Linked DNA regions of Homo sapiens. The protein of the gene in region 1 purifies or fractionates together with the protein of each later gene. This does not show direct contact. Each region holds a gene or a part of one and is shown in the gene's direction. Other genes may lie near its edges.

What was found. Proteins that work in one complex are often made in the same cells at the same time.
Region 2: the proteins of NHSL2 (region 1) and FGFR1OP2 purify together in Homo sapiens (affinity purification with mass spectrometry; 2 studies listed by BioGRID and IntAct, with this or other methods). This does not show direct contact.

What each region holds. Positions count from the first base shown.
Region 1 is NC_000023.11:72,130,691-72,134,444, forward strand, and holds part of NHSL2 (NHS-like protein 2), read left to right. Parts: coding exon of another isoform or gene 1-850; exon of another isoform or gene 851-1,225; intron 1,226-1,388; coding exon 1,389-1,544; intron 1,545-3,400; coding exon 3,401-3,528; intron 3,529-3,754. Other genes in the region: RTL5 (retrotransposon Gag-like protein 5), read right to left, coding at 1-850.
Region 2 is NC_000012.12:26,962,346-26,966,099, forward strand, and holds part of FGFR1OP2 (FGFR1 oncogene partner 2), read left to right. Parts: intron 1-996; coding exon 997-1,110; intron 1,111-2,250; coding exon 2,251-2,388; 3' UTR 2,389-3,754. UniProt on the Homo sapiens protein: May be involved in wound healing pathway.

The sequences.
Region 1 (3,754 bases):
AGAATTCCGACAGGCCTTTGAGGAATTGGTTTTGGAGGCGGCAGTCATCCCAAGACAAGAATTGGGCCAGGAACTGAAAAGCATCTGCATAGCTGCCGAGGGTACAGTGGCCCTGCTTGAGCTTGCGAATGGCCTTTTTAGCCACACGTGGGGGGATGGGGCCACAGAATTCCTTACGGATTTCATCCAGGAAGCGCGGGAAGTTGGCATGCAAGGGGCTTCCTTCCTGGGTGACCGAGATGGCCCAGTCCTTGGCTTCGCCAGTGAAAAAGGAGATCAGAAAGGCCACCCGCTCGGCGCCCCCGGGGAAATGAACCTCATGGTCGGCTATGAAGGTCTCTAGCTGCATCAGGAATTCAGCCAGGTAGACTGGGTCTCCTGAAAAGGGCTCTATCTCAGGCCGCTCCAGCGGTGCCAGAGGGGGTTGCGGGGGCGGTTCCTTTGACGCGGGCGGAGGCAGCGCCGGCGGGGGCGGGATGGGCAGCAGAGGGGGGTCAGCGGGCCCGTCGGGGGTGCTGCGATCCTGGATCACGTTAATCAAAAGATCATCCGAGATACAGTCGGGCTCCGCGCGTGGGGGAGGCCGGCACAAGAAGGGCAGTTCTCCCCCGGGAATGACTTCGATCTCACTGAGCGCGAACTCCAAGTTCTCCTCCGCAAGGACGGGCACTATGGGTACTGGCCAGCGGATGTAGCTGGAGACATTGCCCCGCAAGGAATTAACCTCGGCCAGGGCTCTCCCGAGCTGGAGGCCCAAATTGGCATTCTCCCCGCGAAGGGCATTTAATTCTTCGCGCAGGGCCACATTCGCCATGCGGAGGCTGTTGAGATTTCCTGACGCCTCAGACATCTCGACAAGCCCAGGGGCCCTGGGGCTCCGTGGTGGGGAAAGGGGAACTGGAACTACGGGCGGCCGGAGGAGGCCGAAATGCGGCGGCGGGGCTCGGGAGGGACCGAAGTGCGGCAGCGGGGCACGGGCCAGGCCGGGCCACACCCACCGGGGCGAGCTCGGAGGGCGGCGCTCTGGGCGGAGGGCCCGGCGGCTCGGCCCAGGGCGCGTTACCTCGTCGCCGGGGCCGGAGAGGGCGGGCGGAGGCACGGGGCCCGGAGGCGCCAGGCGGAGGATGCGGGCGACACGGTGGCGGCGGCGACCGCGCGACCGGGCGGGCGGGCGGGCAGGGGCGAGCGGAGCGGGAGGGAGCGGACTGCGGCAGGATCTGTCGAGGAAAAATCTTGCGGCCGGCGATTCCCCGCCTTTTAAGCGCAGCCTCGCACTCCCCCCACCCCACGCAGGGGCGGGCCTTGGGGAACCGCGGGCGCCCACTGGCCGCCGCGCGCCGCTCCCCTCCAGCTCGCCTGCGCCTCTCACTGACTCTCTCCTTCCCTAGCTGCAGCTAACTCGGGTCGGGAAAATGCGACAGCGACTGCCCACTCGAGGTCGTCATGGCGACAGCCAGTGAACGTGTTCCTCTCCTCGGGCAGGCCCCCGAGTGTAGAGGAGCTGCTTCGGGAGGCGCAGCTCAATCTCCAGAGCCTGTTGCAAGGTACCGAGAGGGAGGGGGGCTGCGGCCGGAGCCCAGAAGCGAGATGCGCAGCGGCAGGAGGGAGGCAAAGAAGAAAGAGGACAGGGACCAGCAAGATAAAGACAGAGAGTTTAAAAACAATCGACAAAGCAGTTTCCAGCTTTCACCTTTCAGCCTAATGATTCTGAAAGAGGCTATTTCCAGGGCTGTTTCCCCCCATCCCCAGCCCCTTTTTTCAGCTCAGTAGCCCATGGGGAAACAAGGACAGAGACTGAGGCAGGGCCATAAGTTATGCCATTCACCGAGAGCTGGGTGGGAGACTCCCACAATGTGGGCCTACATTCCCTCCAGCCCCCCTCTTGCCACATCGCCCATGCCTTTGGGATCCTGGCACCAGAAGACAAAGGGGGCATCTGCAGGATCTCCCACTCTGGGCTTCACTCACTCTGCTCTTGCAATAACCCCTGGATAGCTACTGCCTCACCAAAGTAAGCCCAATACACAGCACCCAGAGGTCACCTATTTTGTCCCCCCTAACCAAGCCTGAGCTTCTCGATGTAAAGAATCACATCTTGCTACCCTTAGGTTTCCAGAAGCACCTGGCACAAGGCTGGATTCCCTCCCCACCTGCCAAGAGGTGCTCAGTGGATGTTGAGCATGAAAAGAGGTCTTGTCAGCACTCCTTTATCTATACTAATAAAGGTTAACTCTAATGGCGAATAGAAAACTGCTGATGGGCCACCAACAGGATGACAGCCATAACCCCCACCCCCTACCAGGGCAGTGGTGACCTTGGAAAAGCAAGATGCCAAGGGACACCATGAGCCTTGTGTTCAGATAACAAAGGACTTGCCACACAGAAAAAGAGTCGATGTGCTCTGTGTTGCTACCATGGCAGAATTAGGACCAGTGGGTGGAAACCCAGAAGGAGGCACATTCCACCTCCAGATAAGGAAGAACTTTCTGACACACCTGACAGCCCCAACTGTCCGTGGAAGAAATGAGCTGCCTTGGGAGGGAGGGAGCTCCCCTTCCCTGCAGGTGTGTGCGCTGAGGCTGAAGAAACACCTAGAAGGGCTGCTGAGGAGGGAGTCTGGGCACAGAATGAGGCGTTGGACCAAAGAACCCCAAGAGCAACCCCAAATCTCTGTGATTCTGAGTCTTTGTTCAGTGTACATACAGCATGAATGTCCCTTCTCTACTCTCACTTTCTTCATGTATTCTCATCAAATTCATCACTTCAATCAACCCTATTCAAATCTTGTGCATCCTTACTCACTGATGATGCCGCTGAACTTCTGCCTCTTTTATGCTGTTACCTCCTCCTTCCCTCTCCTTCACCTTAGCCCTCCTAGACCTGACATCACTTACAGCGGGACTAAGGTGCAGGGAACACGGCCCACAAAGGCTCAAGTAAAAGTTCTTGACATCCAAGAAAGAACTCCAGATTGGACTTCCTGGTGTAAATCTCTTCTTGCTTCACACAGGTCATTTCCTTGGTAGGGTCGCAGAAAACCTTAAGAGCTGCAGGGCTTCAAAGAGAGGAACTTGCAGTCCAAAGTAGCAAAAGGTGTCTGCATTCTGAGCCTCTTTTCGTAACTGAGCACTCAAGGTGGGGATCATTGAGATAAGGGCTTGGTCCCCAAACCACCACAGCATGAATTTATTGACTTTCTCTTCTCCTCGATCCTCATGGTCCTGGGAAGCAAGCACTTTTCCATTTCCAAATCCAGTGGCTCAAACACCTGGAAATAGCCTAAAGAAAATGCAAGTCAGGCCTGGCAGCTAGAGCAGGAGTCCTGGCTCATGGCCCTTCCCCGGCCCAGCGCTCGGCCATGGCACCCTAGAGTGTGTGTCTCCACTGTGCTATTTTTCAGAAGAATATGAGGAACAGTACTCGGAGGCCAGACTTGTGGGGCAGACCTTCCGCTCTTCTGATGAGGCCACTAAGCCCACCCCCAACCCAAGGCCCCAGTCTGCCAGGCGTCTGGAGTTTATATTGATGGTGAGTTGCCTCATCCCCCACCTGGGAGAGCCAGCATGCACCCACTGACAAGAGACCTCCAGCTGCTTACTTTACCCACTGGAAGCTGCTCAGCCCTGCTCACCAGCAGAGCTACCCTGAGGCCCCACTGGGATAGGCCCTGCACAGCAGGTGCCTGGCCTGGTGGCCTGTCCACGCTTTCCTGCCTCCCAGACGAAGCCTCCAACTACCCAGCCTAAACAGCCAC
Region 2 (3,754 bases), on another chromosome or scaffold:
TGGAGTACTGTTAAATCCTTTTTACAAATATATATATACACAACTACTGAAGAGACTGTTTATTTGGGGAGTTATTCACTTTTATATTTAAGTCTTAGGCTTAATATGATAAAATACCTCTCAGTTGCTGTGAATAATGGTCTATAGAAGCTGTTCATTGAGAAAATGATTATTCTCGAGTTTCTGTTGATTTTAAACCTTTTTTGTCTGTCTCTTTCACTAGACTGTAAGCTTCTTCAGATCAGGGGACATGTCTTGACAGTCTTTGTATTCCTGTTGTTTAGCATAGTACTGGCACATCATAGGTGTGCAAGATAAGAAAATGAGATTGGAAGAATTTATGCTACTTGCTGCGCCTAACAAATGTGGATGTCTGTATTATACTGATACTATATTTTCAATAGTTAGCAAAGAAGGCCATTTAATATTTTAATACTGAAAAGCAGAATTGTGCTCATTTTATTCAATACTTACCATATACCATACACTAGATAGTAGGTGGATGTAAAGATGCAGTTCCTGCTCTCAAAGAGGATTATGACCTAGAAAAGGTTACAGATTGGATTGAGATAACTTTATAGGCCTGAACAATACAGAAAAGATTTCTAAATCATTGAAGACTTCAGGGAGGAAAAGAGATTGAATGCGTCGGCAATTTTTATCATTCCCGTTACTTTGAACAATAGTGTATGTAAGTGCAAAAAAAAAGAAAAAGTTGCTGATCATTGTGGTGAGAGGAATGTAAAATATGAGTATTTTTCTTGCTGCTAGGTTTAGTTATATTGTGCTGCTTATTCTTAATTCTAGTCCTAACAAATTTGATTTCAAAAGCACATCTGTGGTCAACCAACTTCATTGTTAATATTTGTTTTATTCATATTAAGTGACAATGTAAGAATATTCATGTTAAGTGGTACTGCAGATTTTATAAAAAGGAGAGGATCCAAAAATAAAAAAGTATTTTGCTGATTTCCAACTCCCATCCCTCTTTTTCAGGAACTGCAAGCACATGTTGACCAGATAACTGAAATGGCAGCAGTAATGAGGAAAGCCATTGAAATTGACGAGCAACAGGGTTGCAAGGAACAAGAACGAATATTTCAACTTGAAGTAAGTTTTACATTGCAAATGTAGATGAAAACTGTCCATATAAAGATTTATGCCAGAAAATATATCCCATTTTTAAATATATATTTACTCTTCTTGGGTACTGGTAATGTTCTCCTGGATGCTGTCTATGTGGGCATATTATGCAAGACCATTTATGTGGTGATGCAAGAATCTAGGATTATTAGTAACTTACAATATACCAGTAATGTAGAAAATTGATGTTTCATTCTATATTGCTTATCTTATGAAGTGAATGTACTTCTTCAATTGAGTCATTTTTAAAATTTTGTTTATTCTATTAGAGATCATAGTGATACAGGGAAATTTTTTTTAATCCACAAATATTTAGGGGCACTCTTATTTTTCTGGGGATTCTAAAAACCTTTGTCATCTGTCCTTTATTTTATGACAGTGAAAGTACCAGTCTCTGAATAACTGAAATCAGTACAATAGACTTTTATGCCTTAAGAGCTTCATTTTGAAATCACGGCGGGGAACCTGCTTTAGACTACTAAAATTTAGAAAGTGAGACTGAAGATAAAGTGATAGAGAACAAATTATGAAAGGTTATTGTTAAATGTCTACAAATTTTTTTACAGTAACTAACCAAAAGGAGGCCAGAAAGCAAAGTTATTTACCAGTGCCAGATTTGGTCACTTACTTTCCTTCTTGAAAAATATCATCAGCTACCCCTACCCTGCTGCTCTCAAATGCCAATGAGCTAAACTTGTCCTACATTCCATGCTATCATGGAAAGTAATAAAAATACTAAAAATTACTAGGAGATTCTAGCCTATTCACTGGCTTTACGAGTTTATATAAAAATAAATCTAGATGTTATTTTCTTCATCTCTAATGTGATTGTAAAATAAGGCAATTTCTGAGCTTCTGTTTACAATTATAGCTGCTTAAGTAAGAAGGCTTTGCAGTGGTGGAAGATGTTGAACACGATTCCTAGCTGCATAAGTGTTCTTTAGATTCAAGTTGCCAACTGCATATATCATTGAGTAGATTAATGCCAATTACAGACCTTGCTTGTTTGTTATACCTTCATATGTTCAGTTTTTCCTAACATATGTTTGTGATGTTGTAGCTACCTTGTAGATAGTGACTGCATCTTTGTTTTTGCTTGCCTTTTAGCAAGAAAACAAAGGCTTGAGAGAGATCCTTCAAATAACTCGAGAATCATTTTTGAACCTAAGGAAAGATGATGCGTCGGAAAGTACTTCTTTGTCAGCATTAGTGACCAACAGTGATTTGAGTCTGAGGAAGAGCTGAAGAGTTTCTGAGTCTGTGAGCTTCTTACATGGCTCCAAATGGTCAAATAAGTGAATGAATGAATGGACAGAAAATTCAATCCTTTATTTTTTTCTCTGTAAATATGTACAGTGCACGGGCTATGAGATAGCAACAAAAAATGCATAGTTAATGGTCATAGACTTTATTCCAAAACATAATTGGAAAATAGAAACTGAGCCATTGCCAAATGGTAAAGAAATGAAAAGTTTTCACAGTGACTACTGAATATACCAAGAGCTTTTGGCAGTACTGCTGGCTTTCTGGGTGATTAATTAGGTAAACTTGAATATTCCCAGTAAATGTTTGAGAATGCATAAAATTATACCAATTTAAAAATATAAATTTTTGCCACTGTTTTGTGAACGGAGGATTTGTACGCTAAATTTCATCCTTATTTGGCGTCAAAGTTGATGCAAAGTTTATGTACCATGAGACTTCTAGTGATTGCCTACTTTCACATTTATTTAAATTTTTGTGAAAGAAAATACAGTTTTAAAGGCTATAGGAATGTGTTATATGTACCTTAAACAGATAATTTAATTTTAGCAATTTATCATAACTGATACTTAGCTAACAATTGTCCATAACTTGTTTAAGTGTAAGAAATACCATTTCAGGAATGAAAAAGAAGGAATACTACTTTCTAAGAAAGAAGATCTTATAATAGACATATTTAGTAGGTTAAACTACTCCTTTGAAAGAATAAGTTTTGGTTCAAAGTCAATAATGAAGACGAGATTTGTTTTTCTCTTCTCTGGCTGATTTTTAAGGATATTATGTAGTTCATTTAGTTAACAGAATTGAAATGTTTGATATGGCAAGATAGGTATGGTAATTTCAAAGTGAATTGGGAATTCCTCTGGCTCATAGAACCCTTTTTTTTTTCCTTTAAGTATTCTTGAGATACAAAAAAAAAAAGTAAATACAATTTCAAAAAAAAAGTTCCGGATCTGTTTTTAAGCTCCATCTGGTCCTCATAACCTGCAAGATTTTTCTTAAAACCTTTCAGCTGAAAGTGGGGGTAAAGGTGGAGTAATCTGTGGATTTGTTTCTGTTGTCTTTTAAAATGTCAAATATATAATATGTAATTTTTTTAAAAACCACCAGATACAGAAATGTGCTTTAACATCAGTTGAAACCTAAATTTTCTTATGTTGTGGTGATTGTATTAAAAAGGGATAAAAGAAGAGTGTCAAACATGGTTAAATATATTGTACTCATTTATGTTGAATACGTATTAAAATTAAGACAAATGGAAAATTATACTTTGAGTATATAATTTGTTAAATATTACTTTATATGGTAATTTTATGTATAATTTCATATATTGGTAAAATTCAAAACT